Regions from separate parts of the Homo sapiens genome. Here regions 1 and 3 are each linked to region 2. The links come from fine-mapping of genetic effects on gene expression. A gene starts in region 2. Each other region holds a variant in brackets. All regions are shown on one strand. Distances are from middle to middle.

Region 1 (4,281 bases), 160 kb after region 2:
ATATTAATATAAATATATTAATGCAATTCATATAAATAAGGAAATCATTTTGAAAATAATTACATTTAAATGTAAATTTTTGGGATATCAAAGGCCATTTGCGTTAGAAAATCTAGCTATGGACATCTATGAAGAATAAAGTCCAAACTCAATTATCTAAGTAGGCAAAACTTGATCTTTAATCTTACCTCTTTTTGTCTTCTCTCTGCAGCCTCTGCAAGCTTTGCTCTTTTCTCTTCCTAAATAAATGTGTAAAAATATGTATTAAAATAACAAACATTATTATTAATAAATTATTCACATTTATTTCATAGGCACTATAACAATTTACAAAAATATTCGGTACTGGCCCTAAATGTCCCACAAAGAATGCCACTACTCAACTTTTTGAATTTCATTCTCCTAATCAATATGCCTTCAAATCAGCACATGCTAAAACAGATACAAGGTTTACCTATATAATCATTTATTTACTCTCTTTTTTAATAAAAAGGCCTACAAGCTAGTCAGGGCAATAACAAAACAAATAATGTTTACAAATACAAAAAGGAAAATACATGGTTTGTTACTGCCGGTTAAAATGGAGTCTGAAGTAACCTGGTGTTTTTAGGAAAGGTTAATAAATGAAGTGGGCTAATCTCAGTGTGTAGGAGGGAAGGACTGGAGTAATTTCATGAGAGGTATTGTTCCATATCAGAAAACAGTGAATGCTATTTTTCTAGACCATGTACTACTTATTATAAAGCCCTTTTTCTAGGTGCTGGGATACAACAGTGTAAAAACATAGATAAATGTCTCCTCCCAAATGAAACAAATTCCAATTGCGGGCGCACAGACAAATATAATGAAGTAAGTAAACGTCTGTCAGATGGCATGGCAGATAAGTAATGGGAGAATGGGTGGGTGGTATTGTGGGGAATATATTTTGTTTAACGTGGTCAGCAAAAGCTTCACTGGTAAAGTGACATCCAAGCAGTGAGCCGTGTGGTTATCAAGGGAAGAGGGTATAGTATGAGGATGGGGGGGAGGGCTTAACAAATCTGACATGTTATATTTTATCGACAGCCAGAACAACAAAATCAACTTAATTTAAAACAACAGCAGCAACAAAGAGAAGCTGAACTTTCCCACATCAAATTTATAAGTACTAAATTTTTAGTATCTATAGTAGCTGAAGAGTTAATGTACTTCCCAAAAATACTTCATTTTCTTCAACTAATTTTTAGCTAGAGAAGAGAAACAGGTTTATGTTAACTCCCTGTAAGGAGTACTAATGTAAAGATACTGTTAACAGAAAGCTACAAAAAGTGTACATGTATTGTACCACACACCCACTAGCTACATTTGAATTTCAGATAAGCAATGAGTAATGTTTTTGTAGAACTAGATCCCTAATATTGCATGGCACAAAACGATATTATAAACGTATTCCTTGTATATCTGAAATTCGAATGTAACTGGGTGTCCAGTATTTTTATTAAATACGACATTATAAATTGGACACTCTGTACTACATATTCTTTTAAAGGGAGAACGTAAAAGAATGAGATAAATACTAAAAAGAAATCATTAAAAAAACATATCCGATAAAGCTCAGGCGTATAAGCGACTTTCCGAGCACCTTCTTTTAAAAGATGGTAGACACAGTTGAAAACGCACATCTCCTAGACGACTAAAGAGCTCCCGGAGAAAGCAATGTCTTTTCGCGCCGAATTCCATCTACCACATCCCCCGGAATGTCCCACGCGTAACGCCCTCTGCGTGCGCCGGCGCCCTATGAAGATCCGGCGCAGCTAAAGTCAGTGGAAGGTAGAAAGACGCCACAGCCGCCTTTCGACAACTTTTTGTTACAAAAGTGGAGATCTACACGGAGGCGACGGCCTAGGTCGCTCTGACAGGACCCAACGACCCTCCTGACGCGTCCACCCGTCCTCGCTAGCAGGGTCCCCCAGCGGGCTCTCGACCTGCGCCACCAGGTACAATGGCTCGG[C/T]CCGCCCCGCAACCCGAGGACAGGTGCTCAAGGCGCGGCCCGGCGGACGCAGGGACCTGCTCTACTCACCAGGTCCGGCGTGGGAGGCGCGGACTCCCCGGGACAAGGAAAACACAGCCCCATAGGGACGACAGCTTGAGAACCCTGACCGGGTCCGGCCCAGGCCAGGCGGCGCTAACTGCGCGGTCCGGAGCCGGTCCCTGGTCCTCCGCGCTTGCCCCGCCCCCACCGCCCTCCACTGGCTCGGCTCCGCCCCAGCGGCAACGCCCCGCCCCCACCCCGCAGCTCTGCCCCGCCTCGCCTCTCTGCGGCAACGCCCCCCTCTTCTCGCGACACCAACCAGTCCCACAGCTCAGCTGCGCCCCCTTAAGGCATTGCCCCTTCCTCACCCACAGCTCCGCCTACCCCCGCCCCGCGACCGCTGGGCTTGTGGCCAAAGCCTAGGTTCCAGGAAACACCTGCTGTGGGTAGCAATGCAGGGAAGGGATGGAAAAGCTTCGCTACGGTTCCAAAGCTCTTCCTGCTAACCTTGCCTTACCATTTATAAATGAATGAGTGGTACAGCTCTGGGTAGTTCATGCTACCTTTTTTTATGAGATGGGACTCTGGTGTCCTAGAAATTAAAGCCAAAATTCCAAGTAAACATCAGCACCCTTTTCTCCCTTCTTAGTGACAGTGCTATTCCAGAACAGAGGGCAGAATATAAAATCCATTATTATGACGATGAATCTAGCGTCATAAATGTGGCATTAGTTGACATTTCCACTAGTTTCTGGTATTTAGAAGTCATTTATCCTTCCGAGAGAAATAATAAAGTTTCATCTACTGAGAAATGTTTTAATGATTCTCCTCAAATTTTAATAAGTATGAGAATCAGCTGGGCAACTAGTTAAAATTTACTTGCTGATTTAGTAAGTATAAGGTGGGACCTGAGATTCATTTCCAGTAAACCCACAGGTGATACTAAAGTTACTGATCTCGTCTCCACACAAATGCTTTTATTTTATTTTATTTTATTTTTGCATTCTATTAGTTATTTCTGCTTATGTAAAAATTTTCAAACATTACAAAAAGGTAGGATGTATAGTGACAGCGTCTCAGAAACCATTGTCGGCTTTTTGATATACTTGCTGGTTAATTTTTTATAGATGTATAATTTACATATAATATTATGCACTTATTTTGATTGTAGAGTTCACTGAGTTTTAACAAACATGTGATCACCACATTCAAGATATGTAAGTTTTCCATCACCCAAAAACCTTCTATTGTACCCAATCCCATTCAATACTTTATCCTATACCTAGATCCAGGAAACTATTAATTTGTTTAATATCACTTTAGTCTTTAAGTTTTGCATAAATGTTAATATCACTATAGTCTTTAAGTTTTACATAAATGAAATATACAATATGTTTTGCAAAAGCCATAATATTTTCTAAATTCTTCCATGTTATTGAATGAAACAGTAGTTTATTCCTTAAATAATAGGGGATGATGCTTTTTTAATACTATTATTCGATTGCATGGGCCGTTTCTAAGGGTAAATAAAAATATATAAAGAAAAAGTGAAGGTTCTCTGTTGCAAAAAGAGAAAGATAACTACCCACCTCCTCTTTAGCATTGTGTTTAGAAAACGTGAAATTGTAAGCGCTATCTCTGTCTCACTGAAATGTATGAAAAAAAAAAAAAGGCCAGGCATGGTGGCTTACTCCTGTACTTTTGGAGGCCAAGGTGGGTGGATCACCTGAGGTCAGGAGTTTAAGACCAGCCTGACCAACGTGGGGAAACCCTTTCTCTATTAAAAATACAAAACTTCGCCAGGCATGGTGGTGGGCGCCTGTAATCCCAGCTACTCCGGAGGCTGAGCAGGGAGAATCGTTTGAACCCGGGAGGCGGAGGTTGCAGTGAGCCGAGCTCGCGCCACTGCACTCCAGCCTGCACAACAGAGAGAGATTGCGTCGAAAGAAAAGAAAGAGAGGAGGGGAGGGGAGGGGAGGGGAGGGCAGGGGAGGCTAAATAAGCCTCTTGCCAGTTTTGCATCAGAAAGAAAGAACCTAAATAAGCCTCTTGCCAGTTTTGTATCCTCAGAATATCTTTGGAGGCCTATTGGCTTTCTCTTAGAAATGAAAACATCCCAGAGTGGCACCTGTCTCCCCGTCTTCATGGTAGTTTACTGTCTAGGCACTTGGCTTCAAGATGGAGCTTTCTGCTTGTCAAGAGATACAAGTGTTATTCTTTCCTTTAGATTTCTTTTAGATAAAAACAATTAACATGTGTGTAGTGGACTG
Region 2 (4,157 bases):
CTTCAGTTGGACTACATTTTCCTAAGGTGAACAGTTTGGGTTGAGTCCACACTAAACTAAGAAAATACTTAGACAAAAGATTATCTTTGACAAATATATCAGTGAGTGATCAGAATATATAAATAGAAATATTGATTTTGAAAAACAAGATAAAAATCAAATGGGAATTTTTACATATGCTAAAAAAATTAAAATAAAAACACTGTATCCGTGTCTCTTCAGAAATCTTTTGTATTACTTCTCTTTTGTCACCAAAAAAAATATTCAGTACAACTCTTAGATGTTAATGAAAGAAAAAACACATTATTTATTTCTTCTCGTATTTTTCTTTTCGCTCTTTCTGAGAGACAGAGGATCTGACATAATGCAAAATTTAAGACAAAAAAAAAAATACCTGGAAGAAATGAGCATGGAGAGGGAGTAATTTTGAATGATTATGCTTTCCCAATTCCTCTGTAAGCCTCCTTTTTTTCCCCAAACTGTATTTAGCATTGTTCCTGAATCAACAAAAACATTGCCTTACTCTTAGCTTTTTATAACACCAATAATGAACAATGTGACAAGAATATTCATATCTGGGGAGAAATAGGATGTAAGATTTTGAAAGTTCAAGGTGCTAAATTTTTTGAACTCATTACATATTTGGATAATTCTTAAATTAGCATTTATTGGCTGATGATGTTTTGATCAGGAAAAATTATCAAGAACATTTGATTTTTTACTAAATTGTATGTGTTCAGACACTCAAAATTCTTTGTTGGGGCTCTAGGAATACTCAGATCTGATCACATTTTAAGAAATTTTATCATTCAGATTCGTTTACTAAAACTCATCAGTAATGAGTTCTGTATGTTTTGTTGTTATTTATGTTTATCCAAGCTGTTATGTTGACCTTTTAAAAATGCTGTTTCTCCTTAAAATTAAGAATAACTATTTTTCCCTTCTTTTAGAAAGCTAAGGAGGAAATGTGGACCTGATAGCTGCAAAAGCAAATTGAACTAAAATAAAAAGTTCGGAGTTCAAGGACTCCAAACTTTTCAATCGGTTTTCTCTTCTTCTTTATTAAATGTATTGCCACTAGAAGCAAATAACTGATGCAGTTTCTGCCAGATAATGGCAATAATAAAGGTGAAATGTGAATATTTTTTAAATTATATCTAAAATCATCCACATCATTTAGCTTGTGGATGTACAGGTAGTTTCTATTTGGGAGTGGGGCTAGGTAACTCATCATTATAAAAATGGTATCCAAGCAAGGATCACAATACCTGTACCACTGCCATTGTAAACATTGGATGGCAATATACATGAAACTGATGAACATGAGAACAAAACAAAATAAAAAGTGTAATACATTTTATTTATGCTCCATGGGAGGTGGTAACCTGTGGGGATCAGCACACTCAGCAAGCGGTCCCCGCGCATTAGAGGTGAATCAGACACTTGAACATCTGTCCACTTCATGGAAGACGTTTCATCTCAGAATACACGTACTAATAAACAACAGTTGGAGACAATTGTCTCTGACATTCAACATAATGCTGAGCTGAGGCTGAAAGAAGGAAGGGTGGAATTGTATTTCCTTTGGTAAAGCAAAAACAGCCGTGAGTACAGCCTCTTCTAAAAATCTGATATTTAAAGAGAATTGTAAGACATCAAAATGTTCAATTTGGAATGAAGAGTGGCCGAAGTTACTGGAAAGCTCGTGCCTCCGTCTGCAAAATCACTGGCCAGGAAAGCAAAAACTTTTCCAACACCCAATTTTAATATTGTGCTAAAGCTATTGACTCTGTTAAACCTCTAGAGTTAAATATGATCCCCTCCCCAGCCCCCACCTTTTCTCTCTTAGGTTAGTGTCTGGGGGACAAGGAGGGGGCTGGAGCTTGGCCCCAACCTCGGAATTGCTGCCAAGGGCTTGTAATACAATCTCTCCCCGTTTGAAGGGTAAATCAGTGTCAACTGCATTTGCGTCCACCAAAAAAAGTAAGCATTTTACTTCCGCTCGGTCTATGAGGACTGATGAAATGTAGGAAATCTGTTTCTGGCAGGGAGAAAAAATCGTTTTCCCAAACAGCACTAAAAGGAGCCATCAGAGAAGTATGAAGAGGGGTAGTGCGGCTGTAGCTGCTGCCGCTGCCGCCAGGCTGGTGGGGTGCGGGGAGCGGCTGCTGCAGGACCTGTGCCTGGAGGGGGCCGGCCCCGAGAAGCTGCAGGAGCCCAGCCCGGAGCCCAAGCGCCTCTGAGAGCCGCCAGCAGCCCAGCTCGGGACGCGGGGGTGAGCACGACTGGCTGGCCCAGTTCTGCGCCAACGCCGCCGCAGCGTGCGCGCACCGCAGCCGGGGCTCACGGGAGCCCCTGCCTGTCTACTGCACCCGGGGCGGCGGGGGAGGGGAGAGGTCATTAAAAAATAACCTCAGGAACGAGGCGGGGAAGAGTGAAGAGCCGCGGACAGTTGGACAGGCTCTTTCTCTAAGAGTGGGTATTCACTGCAGGGGGTGACTTTCTGATTCTCTGGAAACAACCATGTGTTCCTTATCCCTATTGCGGAACACCCCGGACAACCGCAGCACGTAAGCCCGCTGGGGTGGCTCTGCCAACCAGGGACAGAGTGAGGATTTTTAATGAACACATCGATTATAAATGCACACATATGCATTCGTGCACAAGAGTATCTGTAATGCATGCTCAGCATTGTCTGTTATGGTGGGGTGGGATAGAGCCAGAATGGTCTTAAAGGGCTGATCCTGAATGTTTTACTTGAGTCGTTGAGGCCAGGATGGGAGGAAAGAGCGCCACATGTGTGATCTGGGGTGATACTCACTGTGTCTGATGAGTTTGATGAAATTGAGTTTTATGTGAATAAACAAACGCTAGCCGATATATATCAACACACTTTGGGGAGATTTTGCGTGGTATCGTTCTTTTTGTTCAGTCCAAAGTTGAGACTGGAATCTGAAATTGTTTGGGGAACAAAGGAGGCAATTTTGCTTTGGAGACATTATTTATACTGGCAAAATTAAATTCTGTCAACTCAGTATGGTAAATTACCATTAACTTAGCCCAGGTATCCGAAGAAGTTTCCATTGTCTTGAATGAAGAGGGAGCAAAAGCGAGGGTTAACAGATTCTGTTTCTACATTCTAAAAACAATTGAGGTTGGGGGAGGGTTGTTAATTCTTTTCCCAGTTAACCTTTTTGAAATCACAGTCTTTACCCTCTCCATCTTCTTCATCTTCATCCTCTCACCTCCGTGATCTTCTTACAGTGAAGAGTTTGCAAAACTTTATTCTTATAAAATTATCTCCTCCAACCCTCTCCAACAAGGTTAGATCAGTTGTGTATGAGAGATCTTATGCCAAGGAAATAAGATCTGCTTGTGCACAGGAACACCCATTTGACATCCTAGTATTAAAATAAAGGCTTAGACAGTTTGGATGTACCAGCCTGGCAGAGGAAGTCCACTTTTCCTCCCCACGTATCCCCTGAGATTCACAGAGGCAAGGCAGAGAACAAGACCTGTGCTTCTTTACTCCAAACTCTTAGCAGTGTGGACACTGATTAACTGCAGCTGGGGTCTGATTTGCCCAGCCTGTCTTTGATATTGATCAATGAACTCCTTCTCAAGGAATGCTTTCCTCTAACTGCGGTGAAGGTGGTGGCTCTGGTGGTTCTCTCCAACATGGGTGTCTGGGTTTTGACTGCCTAAGAGAAGGTAAGGGACAGATGGATGAGGCATGGGACAGTGTGCCTTTGCAAAGCACATTGGAGACTTTGCACAGGGCTGCCTGAATGGTCCCTTACATGGAAAAGGTAGCTTGGATTTCAGCCTGAATGCTACTGAAGTTTGGGTTTATTTCATTACTTTATTGCTAAACACTATGCTGTGGTGTTATGGACTGTGCTTTACTGGGAAATAAGTTCACATGGCAAAAAAATATTTCACCAGGTGCAAAAGGTCATGTGATTGCCCTGGAATTTTTTAGCATCTTGGTTAGAAACTTCAGTTAAACCTCAAACTTTCGAGTATGGTGAAATACCTGGTCTTATATTAACCCTAAGTATGTTGTGTGTTACTTAGAAATCTTACTTCAAGACTGGAAGTCTGCATTGAAGACTCAGGGAAACTTTGGAAAACTAAGTTACCTTGGTTGAGAAGGC
Region 3 (4,226 bases), 150 kb after region 2:
CTGATGGTTGGTTTCCTGAGAAGGGAACTCAAATAAGACAACTGTAATTTTCCCAAATTTTAAGACTGGGAGGGTCAATTTCTATATTTATTCAAAAGAAACCACAAACATCATTTCTATGGGACAGTAGTGCTGGTTTCACTTTCTGTTCTAAATTTCTCATACTCTAAATGAGAATAACCAGTAGAAATACATTTAATTCTTATAAATCAAATAGCTTTAATTACTATTTTTCATTAAATTTTTATTAGTTGGTACAATATTTGATTTTGAAAACTGCTTCATGTCAACCACATAAATGAAGTTCTGTGAAACCCCCAAATACACATGGAGAAATTTTAGATACAGGCATATAGAAAGCAGGTCCAAAACCTTTATCAAAACCTACATGAAAGTGGTAAGAACAAGTGGTAAGAATACAAGTCATCTCCCACTGGCTGGGAGTCAAAAAAAAAAGTCTAGATCTCAAGCTGACGCCAAGTAAGAAGAATTGAAACAGATTTTATAGGCTCTATGATGTGACTTCCCAGACTTTCTCTCACAATCACATCCTCTTCCCAACATTACAGTGCCCGTATGTATCCATAACATTTTGGGCAGGAGAGGGAGTCAGCAGGGTCTTTGATGATCATGCAACATTACCTCTTAATATTAAATTTTCTGATATTTGCAAGAAGCCGATGACAAATTATTTGGTTTTCCATGTCAAACCTCCATGATATATTTTACTAGATACAAAGAATCATGCATTCTTCACATTTAAATCAATAACCTTGTTAAGTTGGAGCTCTAGATGGCTCCTGGGCCTAGGGGTAAGTTGTTTGTTTTAAAAGACATATTCTACGATAATTAGGAAGAAAAAGAATAAAGAAAAACATAAATGTTTGCCTATTCAAAAACACCTTGCCTTCAAGGGCTCAGACAATGACTGGGGAAAACTCCAATAATTTTTTTAGTGCACTTTCAATGTTATTTTGTATTGAGTATTTGTCTGACTCTTAGCATTGTAATTCAGTAGCAGACATTTCCATGGTCCTTAAAATCCTGATTCAGAGGGGAATAACCCACTGGGAAAAATGGAGCACTAAGCTGAGTCAGTAGGCAGGAACCAGAGGCAGTAATAAGAACTGTAATAGAAGATCAGATGTCAGAGAGAAGCCTCCAGACACATTAAACCAAAGAATTATACGTAGGTGCTGGTTCCCATAGCACAGCAAAGCTGGGTTCTGGAGATGTTTATTCTTATCACTTCCACAGAAAAAAAACAGGACTTCTTTCATAGACTATATGCTAACTCAGACATTTTGCACCAAGTAGAAAAACAATGGGTCATGAAATACAAACCAAAACACTAATTTCACTAGAACCAGGGGTTGATTCAAGGTACTGTAAGAATTCTCGGAATTTAACACTTTTGATATTTTTTCATTTCAGATGCTGCACAACAAACATGTCATGGTCCGTGTGGGAGGAGGCTGGGAAACTTTTGCAGGGTATTTGTTGAAACACGACCCCTGCCGAATGCTGCAGATCTCCCGTGTGGATGGCAAAACATCCCCTATCCAAAGCAAATCTCCAACTCTAAAGGACATGAATCCAGATAACTACTTGGTGGTCTCTGCCAGTTATAAGGCTAAGAAGGAAATTAAGTGAAACAAATTGGTCATGACAAGGGGACCCTCATAATGGCCTGTATCCACTTCTCCAGTATAGTCAGTTTAGTTCATATGTTCTGAAAACTGTTTTGGAGAAAGATAGACAGAAAAATGTCATCATATTGAAAAATGTTCAAAGAGTAGCACTATTTATTTTTAATGCTTCTGTAGAATATGACCTATTAAAAGAAAATCTAAACTCAAATTTAAATTATCCAAATTTTAGGCAAATTATTATTTCTCAATATGCGAACACAGTATTTAGAACACAATATTAGAAACACAATTCTAACTAAAGATAAATAAGGAGAAAACATTTAGGATTTGCAGATAAGTCAACAGAAAGTGCCTGCTTTACACTCATGAGTAAAAGCACTCCAGACATTTTTATAATTGCAAGATTTTTATGCTTTTTTTTTTTTTTTTTTACAAAATGATGATTAGTGTGATAATGTGCTGCAAAAAATATCCAACAGCACTACACATAAGTACAGAGTATTCACAATAGTAATATGTTACTGGAAAGGCCACTTCCGAAAAGTTTACATTCACTTGGAAGGCTGCCTTAAAGTATATCTCTTATCTATGACCAAATATCTGGGGTACTTTTAGAAGTTTTCAGTA[C/T]ACCCCCTTAGAGAATAGCTTATGAGTTATTTCACACATTCCTGAGCACATGGCTGTGTTTAGAATGATCTAGTGTAATTCATACATGAGCTGACATACGTTGATACTTTGACGAGTAAATTGTACAGTCAAATGTTCATTGATTTCATGTTATTTCAAAGCATTTTCTTATTAAAAATATATCTTTAGTTAATCCTATTTTGCTATGCTTTCTAGTAAAGTAAATTCACTGTAGCTAATGATGTTACAGACTTACGTATACCCTTGTATACCTGGGACAGGGCTGTTTTATACCAATAAACAGCAAAATATTGTCCTTACTCATTCAAGAATTAAAAGGATAAATTTTAAAAATGTTATCTGTCTCTAAATCAATGCCTCATTCTGAAATCAAGTTAATTTTCAAATGGCAACTTTCTCCAACAGTTATAAGAAGAATCAAATTAGGGCTCCCTGGCACTTCTTCACTTTGGGAGATGAGTGATGGTGGTGTTAGTTTTCCTTAGCAGAGAGTTCAGGTTTTATTATAAGTGCTGCTCTCAGTATAAAAAGGATAGAAAATTAATTTTTCATGTATTCATTTTTCAACATCAACAAAAGAATCCACCTTTCTTGCTCCAAAAAGTCAGGAAGGAAGAATATTTGTCACATGACAAATTTAGTCAAAATATACATAATGTGTTAATTGAGAAGTTCTTAAATAACATGCATGGCATAATTTTGTAGTGCTGGAAGTGATGATAATCATTTGGGGGAGAGAAAGTCAGTGAAACCTAAAAAAAATAAATCGATTAAAAAAAAAACCCTGAGATGTTGTATGAGATAGTCACCTTGGTGCAGTGAATAATTCTAATATATTTTAAAATATAATGTTGAGTGATAAAGATTAAGATCTTTAAATTACCTAATACTGACACTGAGTTTCTTTGTATAGTTAATGACAATATTTCCATCAACATTTTCTCCTGTGCCTAAATTTGTTCCATAAGCGTATTTATATCCTTAATAATATAATTCCACTGCCTGTCTCTAAAACAAAAATTAAAGATAATAGTCAACTTCATTAAAGAAGTGTAGCTTAACAAAAGTAATATTAACCTCTTTATCTTTTGCATTAGTAGTTATCTATTGCTGCATTAAATTGCCACAAACTTGGTAGCTGAATAAGCATGTTTATTATCTCACATTTCTGCAGTCATTCAACATGGTTTCAATAGGCTAAAATCAGAGTGTCACCAAGGCTGTTTTCCTTCCTGAAGAGTCTAGGGGAGCATCCATTTCCTTTCCTTTTCCATCTTCTAGAGGCCACCTGCATTCCTAAGCTCCATGATTTCCTTCCTCCATCTTCAAAATCAGCAATGTAGCATCTCTATGACCCGTCTTCTTTCTTCACATCTCTTTCTCTCATAGGTTGGAAAGGTTTTCTGCTTTTAACAATCACATGATTAGCTTGGATCTACCTGGATAATCTATTTTAAGGTCACTAACTTGAGCACATCTAAAGAATCGACTTTGCCATGTAACAACATATTCACAGCTTCCAGGGATTAGGACATGAACATGTTTGGCAGGGAGGGAAGGATTATGATACCCATACCACATCTAAGATGGTCTTTTAAGTGTCACTGAAAACATGGTCACAACTGGCACTGGAGTCTAGCTGCTAGTCAATCGGCACCAACCAGGGATGTGAAAAAAACTGAGACTATATTCAGCCTCTTACTCCTCAACTCCTTATTGAAGACTGGCCAGGACATAGACCAAGTAGGTTAATGTCACCTTATTCTCAGCTAGATGTAAGATCCAAAGAAGGACAATGGAGAGATGGGTCCAATAGCCAATGAATAAAGGATTAAAAAGTCTAAATAGTCTAGAAATCTGGTTGCAAACAGAGTGGAAACATCTCAAACCAGAAGTTCAAGTAAATAGTAAAAAGGCCACAGTGAG

Direction of the effects. Alleles are on the strand shown, and positions count from the first base shown. SD is a standard deviation of normalised expression in the study named.
With allele C in place of T in region 1, the expression in subcutaneous fat of the gene that starts at base 1,987 in region 2 is higher (small effect, 0.36 SD a copy in GTEx).
For the expression in ovary of the gene that starts at base 1,987 in region 2, T is the low allele of the variant in region 3 and C is the other (small effect, 0.36 SD a copy in GTEx).

What was found.
Region 1: its variant is fine-mapped to the expression of GAS2 in subcutaneous fat (GTEx, PIP above 0.99).
Region 3: its variant is fine-mapped to the expression of GAS2 in ovary (GTEx, PIP 0.97).

The regions. Positions count from the first base shown.
Region 1 is chr11:22,827,636-22,831,916 of GRCh38, forward strand. SVIP (small VCP interacting protein) reads right to left here and starts at 2,166. Exons shown (of 4, transcript NM_148893.3): 1 at 2,060-2,166; 2 at 189-239. The coding sequence starts at 2,113. It overlaps LINC02718 (long intergenic non-protein coding RNA 2718), which reads left to right and starts at 1,779. Exons shown (of 11, transcript NR_187210.1): 1 at 1,779-1,976. RefSeq lists an enhancer at 1,761-2,070 and a silencer at 2,221-2,290. The variant C/T (reference allele first, on the strand shown) is at 1,991.
Region 2 is chr11:22,664,625-22,668,781 of GRCh38, forward strand. It overlaps GAS2 (growth arrest specific 2), which reads left to right and starts at 1,987. Exons shown (of 8, transcript NM_001143830.3): 1 at 1,987-2,275. RefSeq lists a silencer at 2,067-2,226.
Region 3 is chr11:22,810,364-22,814,589 of GRCh38, forward strand. GAS2 (growth arrest specific 2) reads left to right here. Exons shown (of 8, transcript NM_001143830.3): 8 at 1,435-2,638. The coding sequence ends at 1,653. Among named protein-coding and RNA genes, the nearest start is that of LINC02718, 17 kb to the right of the region's middle. The variant C/T (reference allele first, on the strand shown) is at 2,280.